Linked DNA regions of Homo sapiens. The protein of the gene in region 3 purifies or fractionates together with the protein of the main gene of each other region. This does not show direct contact. Each region holds a gene or a part of one and is shown on either strand. Other genes may lie near its edges.

Region 1 (3,647 bases), on a different chromosome or scaffold from region 3:
GTTGGCTCTTCCCATCATTGGTGACGAGAAGGCTGACAACTCCATTGTAAAATGACCTTTTACCTTTTGTGGTTAATAGAGAATTGGTGAGGTGATACTTTAGAACTCTGAATATCTTTTTCTCTAGAGTCCTTCACCAGTGCTCTCATATCCAGGCATCTATACATGGTTCTTACCTGAATCAGTTAACTGTGTTGGTTGTGAAAGAGTGATTTTCTATTTTCATAATTCTTTCTGTTTTTTTTTAATTAATTAACTTACTTATTTTGAGACAGGGTCTCACTCTGTTGCCCAGGCTGGAGTGTAATGATGCAATCATGGCTCACTGCAGCCTCCACCTCTCCCAGCTCAGATGATCCTCCCACTTCTGCCTCCTGAGTAGCTGGGGCCACAGGCGCACCACCACGCCCAACTGAGTTTTGTATTTTTTGTAGGGATAGGGTTTCACTATGTTGCCCACACTGGTCTTGAACTCCTGGGCTCAAGTGATCTGCCCCGCCTTAGCCTCCCAAAGTTCTGGGATTACAGATGTGAGCCACTATGCTGGGCCATTCCTTCTGTTTTTATTAAGTAACATTCCCATGTAAAAATAACCTGTGCCTTCTCTCCTTCCCCGGTTTCGAAAGTTATTTTAGTATTAGTGGGGACTCTAGGATTTTAAAAATTCAACATAATGGAATCCATTTCTGTCATTTGTTTTGAGCATCAAATTTGACTAGTGGAGACCCCTTAAAGCTGCCTCTTGTGTCCTTTGATTTGTCCTTTGATTTTTAAGTGCATCAATACTTTCAGTTTCAACTTTCCCTTTCCCTGTCCCAGCCTGGAGTCAGCTATTTCTCCAAGGAACTGTGGTCCTTTTTAGTGGAGAATGGTCCTTAGAAACTGAGATCCAGGCACTGGAAGTGCTCATTGCTCCTGGCCTGTCATTTCTTTTAGGTCTTTTCAGGAGATAGTAGCTAGGAGGTGTAGATAGTAGCTAGGAGGTGTGATGCTTTTTTTTTTAATTAAATTACTAACTTCATATTGTTATGAACTGCTTCCAATTCAATACCGTTTTCTCTCTTCACTTTATATATTTTTTTCTTTTTACTCCTGGTAAAAAGTCTGTTCTTAGTAACATTAATGTGTAATATTTAGTTGTGGCTGGGCACAGTGGCTCACACCTGTAATCCCAGCACTTTGGGAGGCCAAGGCGAGCGGATCACCTGAGGTCAGGAGATCGAGACCATCCTGGCTAACACGGTGAATCCCCGTCTCTACTAAAGATACAAAAAATTAGCCGGGCGTGGTGGCATGCGCCTGTAGTCCCAGCTACTCGGGAGGCTGAGGCAGGAGAATCGCTTGAACCTGGGAGGTGGAGGTTGCAGTGAGCCGAGATCCCGCCACTGCACTCCAGCCTGGACCACAGAGTGAGACACTGTCTCAAAAAAAAAAAAAAAAAATTAGTTGTTTGCTGAGTTCCACAACATAAATGAAATAGTTTCAGAATTACTCCACCAATAATAATTCCCACATCAAATCAACTACATAATATTCAGGACTTCCTAGCACATTCTGTCCTTAGAACGTCCCTTGAAGATGTATGGTCAAAGTAGTCAGTTCACACTTTGGCTTTTTTCCCTGTGTGATTGTTTTCCATCTGATGCACAGTTAGGTTGGTTTGCTTCCGTTTATAAACTTACCTTTAAATATTTATAGAGCAGCTATTGGGATACATTTATTTTTTTTCTCTCAACAAATACTGAATGCCTACTCTGTGCTGTCACAGCGTCACACGCAGGGCTTACACACGTGGTTAAGAGCATAATTACTGCCTTAAGCGGGGCCATGGCAACAAGGATGTCATATGAATAAAGGGGGCAAGCCCTGTAATCAGGCTGTGCCCGGGGTACTGTGGGGTTTAGCGTGGCTCATTGATAGGCACAAGGAACAAAGATTTCCAGACAAGATGGTGATTCCTGAAGGCAAATGGAATTATTCAGGGAAAAATAAACTTAATACCAAATTTTAAAACACTTAAATACAGCTACTACATTTCCTCTTCAGAAGAATTAACCATATTGCTTACAGTCTGTTTTTAAGCACTCTAGTAAAAGAAATACTGTCTGTACCTTGTCCTGGTAAATATTTTTATTTTGTTACTTTAGCTTCTTCATATTGACAAAAGAAGAGAATATCTTTATCAACTTCAGGAGTTTTTGGTGACAGATAATAGTAGAAATTGGCGGTTTCGAGCTGAACTGGCTGAGTAAGTTCTAACAGTTTATTAGATTATGTTTTGGAGGGGTATATATTTACTTCATTTTTACATTTTCTCAGTTTCTTCATTACTTTGTGTAGATCCAAGTTTCTATGTGGTATTCTAGCCCTTTAACGCTTCCTGTAATATGTGTCTTACTGTCAGTGAATTTCCTCAGCTTTTTTATTTTTTCTTGAAAATGTCTTTAGTTCATCTTTATATTATTTTTATCATGGTGAAATACACATAGCCAAATTTGCTGTTGATGACATTTAGTCCATTCACAGTGTTGTGGAACCATTCCCTCTATCTAGTTCTGAAATGTTAACCTCCCGAAAAGAAAAACCCATGCCCAATAAGCATCTACTATCTATGGATTTGCCTGTTGCGGACATTTCATGCAAGTGGAGTCATATAACACATGGCCTTTTGTGCTTGGTTTCTTCATTTAACAATGTTTTCAGTTGTCCTCCATATTGTATCCTCTAGCTGAACCTGCCTTCCTTTTTGTGGTTGAGTAATATTCCATTGTATGGATATACCACATTCGTTTAGGGCATTCATCTGTTGAGGAACATTTGGGTTGGGGGTGTGGTCTTTTGTGAATAGTGCTGCTAGGAACGTTTATGTACAAGATTTAATATTTGAAATCTGTTTTCAGTTCTTTTGAGGTGAATTTGCAAGGCCATATGGTAATTCTGTGTTTAATTTCTTGAGGAACTGCCAAAACTTTTCCACAACAGCTATACCATTTTACATTCCCATCAGCAATGTATGGGAGTTCCAGTTTCTCTGTCTCCTCACTAACACCTATTTTTCTACTAAATTTTAAAAATATTTCTAAATTGGCCAAATAATAATTGTGCATATTTGTGAGGTATGTAATGATGTTGCAATACGTATCGGATAGTGGTCAGATAAGGGCAGTTAGCATATCCATCACTCGCTTATCATTTACAGCTGTTCTGATGGGCTTGGAACAGCACTTCATTGTGGTATGATTTGCATTTCCCTAATGACTAATGATGTTGAACACTTTTCCATAAGCCTGTCAACCATTTGTGTATATTTTGTGGAGAAATGTCTATCCAAGTCTGTTGCACATTTTTAAATTGGATTATCTTAAGTTGTGTTGTTGAGTTGTAAGAGTTCTTTATATATTCTGGATTATAGACCTCACCTGCATTTTCAAATGATGTCTTTGCTGAGTATGGAATGTGGGGCTGACAGTTTGTCTTTCAGTATATTAAAGATGCCACTCCATTGAGTTCTGGCTTGCCCACTTCTGACTCAAAACACACGCCTCCTCTTCTGCCATATAGTGCCGGGGTGTGAGTCCATCTAGTCAGGGTCAAGCTGGGTTTGCGTTTTGTGATTGCTGTGGTTACGTTCAGTGTACTTGGGGCTT
Region 2 (4,444 bases), on a different chromosome or scaffold from region 3:
CTGGCCAACATGGTGAAACCCAGTCTCTACTAAAAATACAAAAATTAACTGGGTGTGGTGGTGTGCGCCTGTAGTCCCAGCTATTCGGGAGGCTGAGGCAGGAGAATGGCTTGAACCCGGGAGGCGGAGGTTGCAGTGAGTTGAGATGGTGCCACTGCACTTCAGCCTGGCAACAGAGCGAGATTCCGTCTCAAAAAAAAAAAAAAAAATTTCAGTTCTTCAATAGGGCAGCAATTTCATCTGTACAGTCTGTGTGGCCGGGCGCGGTGGCTCACGCCTGTAATCCCTGCACTTGGGGAGGCCAAGGCAGGCGGAACACAAGGTCAGGAGTTTGAGACCAGCCTGGCCAACATGGTGAAACCCTGTTTCTACTAAAAATACAAAGATTAGCTGGGCGTGATGGTGCACGCCTGTAATCCCAGCTACTCGGGAGGCTGAGGCAGGAGAATCTTTTGAACCCTGGAGGCGGAGGTTGTAGTGAGCCGAGATCACGCCATTGCACTCCAGCCTGGGCAACAGGGAGAGGCTCTGTCTCAAAAAAAAAAAAAAAAGAAAAGAAAAAGAAAATCTGTGTTTCACAAAGATTTTTAACAAGCAAATTTGATATTAGCCAATAACCAAGTATCTATGAAAGTCAGCATCATCACTTCCTGCAAATTTCAGCACTGATAACATTGCTATGTTATCAATATAACATAGCAATGGATGCTAATGGACTCTGTTTTTAGCTACTTTTTAGTATTATGCATCTTAGTGTAATATAGACACAAAACGTCACTTTAAAGTCCTTTTCCATTTCCAAAGTGCACCTCCTCTGTTCTTAGTTTTCCCCACCTCGGTTCCTCTTAACTTCCTTTTTCTACACACCCCTCGGTTTTTCCCGCCGCTAGCTAAAAGCTGCACCATGCCAGTTACCTTGGTTCTCCAAATATGACTCCCTCATGCTCACCACGCATCGGCAGAACTGTACATTCCCAAGCTCCTTACATTATATTCTTACTCCAGTTGCAATATGACGTCACAAAGTAGCATCTACTACCTTCTTCTTGTCTTGGGCACGCCTCCTTTCTAATTCTTGTTTGCCATCTGTGTCATGCCTTACTTCTCAGGTGTCTCATGACTGGAAACAGGGACTTTTCTCCTCTAAGAGAAAATGACCCTTCCGAAACCCACTGCTGGTCACCTTCACCCCAAAGTTTATATTAAGCCTAATGGAAGAATCATTAAAATCCTTTCTTGCAGTGTGAAACTGTGAAGCCAAGTCATGGCTAAGAAAGAATTAGGGAATGACAAGAAAAAGATTTGAAGCCAACTCTTCGTGTCTATAGTCCATAAATATACGAGGTAGAGAACTGCCGGGTTAAAAATAAAATAATACCATGACTCTTGTTATTGCTGCAACTCTTCCAAAACTTCCTGCCACACACACACACATTCACACTGGATTCAGGTCGATCCCATATAAAAATGCTCAGTCTCACAATTATACTTGCAAAAAAACTGAAACAATCTTTCAATTATCTAATATCTCCACATCTTTCGAGAGACACTTACTGCCCTTGAAATGCGTCAGAAACAACCAAGACACGAGTGCGTCTTCTCCCGGTAGAAGAAAAAGTTAACTTCTCCCCCACCAGCTGTCATTACGTTTTTTAAAAAACAGAGAGAAGGAAAAGCTGAAGCCACCCGGAGCATTTCCAGGCCGGCAGGGCTTTGGGAATGCGCACGAGAATCGCGCTGGGCGCTCTGAGAGCAGAACCGGCCGCTCAGGCCCCTAAGGAGACCCCGCGGGCGGCACCAGGAGGAAGCGCGCGCTCCGGGCAGGGCCGCGGCCGAAGAGGGGGCGCCAAGCCCGGTACCTGCCGCTGGCGCTCGGGGTCTGCAGGCCGGGGGAGGGAAGCGGGCTTTGTGAAGAGGGGTCTCCGAGAAAGCCGCGCGGGACGGCGAGGGGAGGCTTCACGAGGGCAGACGCGCCCCGGACCCGGAGCCTGGGCGGGCGGGGAAGCGGAGAAGGGGACGCCCGACTTGGACGGAGGGAGGGCACGGAGCACTCAGGACTAGGGCGGGAGCGGCGAGCAGCGGGCGGCGGCCCCAGGCGGACAGGTTCGCAGGGAGTGGGCCGGAGGCCGGGGCGGGGCTGGGGTCTGCACTCGCCCTAGCGGGCAGGTCGCCAGCAGGCTGGGAGTCGGGGCCGGGGGGCGGGGCGGGGTCTGCACTCACCTAGGTTGGCAGGTCGCAGGAACCGGCCCGGGGGCCGGGGCTGGGGTCTGCACTCGCCCAGGCGGAAGGGAAGCGCCTGCCTGGACCGGGGTGGGTGGGGGACTACGAAGGCGGGAGCCGGGGCAGGGCTGGGGTCTGCACTCACCCAGGCGGCAGGTCGCGGGGAGGGGAGTGCCTGCCTGGACGAGGGGAGATCGGGACTGGTGGTCAGGGGTCGGGACGGGCAGGGGTCTGCACTCACCCAGGCGGGCAGGTCGCAGGCGCGCACCCCCAGGCGCACGACGCGCTCCTCGTCTTCCAGCAGCGCCAGCGCGCGGCACAGGCGCAGGGCCTTGAGGCCGCGGCTGCGGCGACACCAGGCGAGCAGCGCGAGCGCGAGGAGAACCCAGCTGAAGCTGAGCCCCAGGTAGCCCAGCGCGTACACGGGCAGCAGCAGCGCGAAGCTCCGCGCCAGCTGCGCCAGCAGCCCGGGCAGCTCCACGCTCAGCACGCCCCCGGGGTTCTCAGGCGCCGCGCGGCCCCCAGCCCCGCCGGCGCCCGCCTCCGGGCCCTCGCCCCGGGCGCCGCTCATCGCCCCGCAGTGCCGCGCTGCCCTCCCGGCCGAGGCGGGCTGGGTGCTCGCGCTGATCCCGGGCGGCTCAGCCCCGCGCCAGCGCCCCTCTGAGGGGACGCGGCTCCGCCGCACGCCCGCCTCCGCCCGGGACGGTGGCGTCATCACGCGGGGCGGGAGCGGCGTGGGCCTGGGGCTGGCACGTCACCGGGAGCGGGCGGGGTGGATACTGACGTCATCGCGCGGGGCGGGCCGTGGGCCGGGTCGGAGACTACTGGAGTGGGCCGGGCAGGCGCACGACGTCATCACGCGAGCGTTGTGTCTCGGCTGGCGGGAGCCGGGGACGGGAAAGGAGAGTGCTCGGTGCGTGGGCTGGGCGTGCCTGCGTCCCCTCGAGCCCCACGGGGCACCCTCCCCACTTGCCTGTGGCCTCGGAGCCCGCGGGCGGTTTTGGCTCGGCGTCGCGCCCCGAGGCGGCTTCCGGGTGCGTGGCTGCGCTCGCCGAGGCCCGGGAAGTTGCCGTCGTCAAACCCAAAGGCTGACCGCCTCTGGGAGCTGCTGGCAAACGTGGGGGTGCGCGGCCGCTGAGCGCAGCCGGGGTGGCGGTGGGATGAGAGGGCGGCGTCCCTGTTTGCGGTCATTTTGCGGCCAGGAGGACGGGTGAGAGGGCGCCGCCCGCCGGAGGTCGGACGGGCGCCGCTGGCGGGAGTCCTCCGGTATTTTTCGGTGTGAGGTTGCCTAGCCAGTGTGCAAGGTTGTGGCTTTTGCGGAGTCTCTCGGGACGGTCTTGTTATCGGGCATTCCGGCGTGAGAACGCTGCCTCTGGGGCCCTTCCCACCCTGCTTGTCAGGGTTTTAAACACAAACGACTCCGTTGTGACCTTGACAACTCTCACACAGTTCAGTTGGCTTTTAAGATGCCTTTAATCCCAAAAGTCCTCCCTGAGGGGTCTGGTAGTGCCGGGCAAAGACCACCGCAAGCGCCCAAGGGACGCTGTTGACACTCGGGAACTCCACCCCGGGCACCACGCAGCTTCGCCGAAGGTGTTAATATTGTGGCCAACTATGAATAGCTGTTTCAAACGACTAATTTTGGGCCTTTCCTGTGATTCCTGAGGTCACTTTTCAGTTAACTCAAAAACACAACTATTGATCACTTTACTTTCCAGTGAATTCAATCGAGTTAATTATATTTGTTCTGTAGTTTCTTTCAAGGAAACTCCAAGCCAAACAGTAGCAAAGAACATCCTACTTGACTGTTTTTGAGCATATTCAGTGAATTCCAAGGAAATTTTTACTGAATTTGTAACAGAGTAGGGCACTGGCAGGTACTGAATGAATAAACAAATGCCCAGAAGAAGCAGGGTCACCTTTACATAGGAATCTGTCTCCCCTCGTTCCTGCGTCTTCATAATTTTGTGTGCATATGTATGTGGAGATTATATCACATATGTAAAACATTGCAGAGTCTAAACTCTCAACTCCAGGCAAGGGCAGTAAACCCCAAGCAAGGAATGGAAGTGGTTTCCCTTTTCTTACTCTTCACAGTCCCTGGTTTGCTGCAGCAACAAATTATATTATGTAGATTGTAAATATGCAACCGGTTAATGCTCCTAACACCACCTTTCATTCAAAACTAAGCCTCAACACAAAAGCAAGTAATTGCTTTGTTGAC
Region 3 (3,647 bases):
TGTGACAAAAAATAAGGAAGCACTCCAAGACCAAAGGTGACATATCAGAAGGACACACTACCAACTTAAGGAGGCTTATGCTGGCCAAATTTCAGGGTCAGAACGACTAATGGTGAGAACGAAGTGTAAAATAATGAATAAATTAAAATCCATGTACAATATAGTGATACAGAAAGTAGCAAGGAAACTTATTTGCTACCACTGAGGTGACCACTTCACCAATTCTTTACGAAGAAATTTATAATGAAAAGCAAAAAAGTAAACACCCTACCTTATTAGAGATCAATAAAGGAAACATTTGAAAGTGCGTTTACCCCCATACTAGTGAATTCCTTAAAACAACTGAAAGTATCCTAAATAGAAAATATTCTAAGGGAACATTACCAGCTAAAACCAAAACACGCTTGCCTTTATAGAAATTAAATGAACTACTTCAAATCTATTTATTACTAGAAAATAAGAGAGCGAGGCGTAGTGGCTCACACCTGTAATCACAGCACTTTGGGAGTCCGAGGCGGGCGGATCATGAGGTCAGGAGATCGAGACCATCCTGGCTAACACAGTGAAACCCCGTCTCCACCAAAAATACAAAAAATTAGCTGGGCGTGGTGGTGGGCGCATGTAGTCCCAGCTACTGAGGAGGCTGAGGCAGGAGAATGGTGTGAACCCGGGAAGCAGAGCTTGCAGTGAGCCGAGATTGCGCCACTGCACTCCAGCCTGGGCGACAGAGCTAGACTCCGTCTCGGGGAAAAAAAAAAAAAAACAAGAGAAAATAAGTTACTAAGCTAAATTACTGTACTGAACAGTACATTTTTTTTTTTTTTTTTCTGAGACAGAGTCTCACTCTGTCGCCCAGGCTGGAGGGCAGTGGAGGGACATCAACTCACTGCAACCTCTGCCTCCTGGGTTCAAGTGATTCTCCTGGCTCAGCCTCCTAGGTAACTGGGATTACAGGCACACACTAATTTTTGTATTTTTAGTAGTAGAGATGGGGTTTCACCATGTTGGCCAAGCTGGTCTTGAACTCCTGACCTCAAGTGATCCACCCACCTCAGCCTCCCACAGTGCTGGGATTATAGGCATGAGCCACCGCACCCGGCCTGTCAGAATAGTACAATTTTAAAAGTGACTATTGCCATATATAATAACTATACATTTATCAGATTTATATAGTGTACATATATAAATACACTTATCTGTGTGTGTGTGTGCGCATCAAAGCATCACAAGATACATCCACCTTTGAAGCAAAACACTGGAAAAAATTAAAAACTCAGAAAAAAACTTTACAGGCCAGCACAGTAGCTCATGCCTGTAATCCTAGCACTTTGGGAGGCTGAGGCAGGTGGATCACTTGAAGACAGGAGTTCGAGAGTAGCCTGGCCAACATGGTGAAACCCCGTGTCTACTAAAAATACAAAATTAGCCAGGCATGGTGGTGTGCACCTGTAATACCAGTTACTCAGGAGGCTGAGGCAGGAGAATCACTTGAACCCAGAAGCAAAGGTTGCAGTGAGCCAAGATGGCGCCACTGCCCTCCAGCCTAGGCAACAGAGAGAGACTTCCTCTCAAAACAAACAAACAAACAAACAAACAAACAACTTTACAAATTAAAAAGTAGAAATTTCAGGCAGGGCACTGTGGCTCACGCCTGTAATCCCAGCACTTTGGGAGGCCAAGGCCAGCGGATCACCTGAGATCAGGAGCTCCAGACCAGCTTGGCCAACATGTTGAAACCCCATCTTTACTAAAAATACAAAAATTAGGCAGGCACAGTGGCTCACGCCTGTAATCCCCACACTTTGGGAGGCCGAGGCGGGCAGATCACGAGGTCTGGAAATCGAGACAATCCTGGCTAACACAGTGAAACCCTGTCTTTACTAAAAATACAAAAAATTAGCCAGCTGTGGTAGTGGGCGCCTGTAGTCTCAGCTACTCGGGAGGCTGAGGCAGGAGAATGGCGTGAACCTGGGAGGTGGAGCTTGCAGTGAGCCGAGATCGCGCCACTGCACTCTATCTAGCCTGGCGACAGACCCGAGACTCCGTCTCAAAAAAAAAAAAAAAAAGAAAAAAAGAAAAGAAAGACTTGCCTATAAGTCATAAGCTATATTATAAGCTTAATGCTGGACAATTTTTAAATGACTTGTCTGTAAGTCATATCCTTGTACATGTAGCAAGCTGTCACATTATAGAAAACTGAACACATCACCTTCACTTTTCCATCAGCCGCAACTTTAGATCACTCATTTTCAGTTAAGATACAGATGGTATATGTTCAATAATACAGTGCCACATAAAAATTTCACTCAATCCAAAAATTCGAAGTTTTTGCAATATAGGCAACAACACGCTAAATTAATTGTACAACAACTACAGCACTAAGGTAAATAACTTGTACTGGGATACAGAAGTTCAATATCAAAGCTACTAGCAACACCAATCCACATAGATTCTATAAAAGTTTAGTGTAATTCGTCGGGAGCGGTGGCTGAAGCCTGTAATCCCAGCACTTTGGGAGGCAAAGGTGGGCGGATCACATGGTCAGGAGTTCGAGACCAGCCTGGCCAATATGGTGAAATCCCACCTCTACTAAAAAAAAACTACAAAAATTAGCCGGGCGTGGGGCGGGTGCCTGTACTCCCAGCTACTCGGGAGGCTGAGGCAGGAGAATCGCTGGAACCCGGGAGGTAGAGGTTACAGTGAGCAGAGATTGCGCCACTGCACTCCAGCCTAGGCGATAGAGCAAGACTTGGTCTCAAAAAAATAAAAAAGAAAAAGAAAGTTTAGTGTAATTCTCACTTAAGCGGTCAGCTTCAATCAAAAAGGAATTAAGATCTTCTCATTTTATTTATTGTTGGGAAAAAGGAGACAGTACTAATAACCACCTATAATCAACATTGTAAGGAATAACAATTAAATATTTACTGTATTAATTGTCATCAAATTAAAAACACAGTGCCTCTTGTACTAGTTTACAAAACAAAAACAAAAAAGCATCATCACTCTAAAGTTGTCACCACTTAGTAATCTGAGATATTTTAATTGCAGCTGCAATGTTTGTGTTTGTTGCCTGTGTATATGACTCATATAGAAAGGTTTTCCCAAGACTGCTGGATTTTTGAGAATGCAGAAGCCATAACTGGGGCATACTGTGTGGGAACTGTCATGACAGTGAATGAATAAAAGGGGAAAAGAACCCATGACAGAATTTTTTTTCAAGTTTTTATAAAAAGCAAGTCACTCACTAAAGGCAGACTCTGCAGAATAATAGGAAAGGTTGGGGAAAAGCCATCCCTGCTCCAAGAAGCCTTCCTTGACTCTCTTGGTTGGATTCAGTGCACTTCTTAACACTACATAGCACTTAACGGGTTTCCTTGTCTGGCTCCCCAGCCATACTATATGCAACTTCAGACCAAAAGCTGTCTTAAATTAGTACCTACTTCCCAAAACACCCGCCATATGGAGGGCCCTCAGTAGGTGGTTCATAAATAGGAATAATCAATTTTACATTTACCTTTTATTTTACATTTTACAAAGCACTTTCACGAACACTATCTTTTCTGATCCACATTAACAATCGTGGGAAGGGCTTTATTTAATCAAATGGCTTCTGGTTTTATAAAGAGTTAATTCAGGGCCGGGCGCAG

What was found.
Region 1: the proteins of FBXO42 (region 3) and PPP4R1 purify together in Homo sapiens (affinity purification with mass spectrometry; one large-scale study listed by BioGRID and IntAct). This does not show direct contact.
Region 2: the proteins of FBXO42 (region 3) and ESYT2 purify together in Homo sapiens (affinity purification with mass spectrometry, with the first as the bait; one large-scale study listed by BioGRID). This does not show direct contact.

What each region holds. Positions count from the first base shown.
Region 1 is NC_000018.10:9,551,923-9,555,569, reverse strand, and holds part of PPP4R1 (serine/threonine-protein phosphatase 4 regulatory subunit 1), read left to right. Parts: intron 1-2,147; coding exon 2,148-2,248; intron 2,249-3,647. UniProt on the Homo sapiens protein: Regulatory subunit of serine/threonine-protein phosphatase 4. May play a role in regulation of cell division in renal glomeruli. The PPP4C-PPP4R1 PP4 complex may play a role in dephosphorylation and regulation of HDAC3.
Region 2 is NC_000007.14:158,826,628-158,831,071, forward strand, and holds the start of ESYT2 (extended synaptotagmin-2), read right to left. Parts: upstream 2,883-4,444; 5' UTR 2,792-2,882; coding exon 2,462-2,791; intron 2,394-2,461; exon of another isoform or gene 1,555-2,393; intron 1-1,554. UniProt on the Homo sapiens protein: Tethers the endoplasmic reticulum to the cell membrane and promotes the formation of appositions between the endoplasmic reticulum and the cell membrane. Binds glycerophospholipids in a barrel-like domain and may play a role in cellular lipid transport.
Region 3 is NC_000001.11:16,345,944-16,349,590, forward strand, and holds part of FBXO42 (F-box only protein 42), read right to left. Parts: intron 1-3,647. UniProt on the Homo sapiens protein: Substrate-recognition component of some SCF (SKP1-CUL1-F-box protein)-type E3 ubiquitin ligase complex. Specifically recognizes p53/TP53, promoting its ubiquitination and degradation.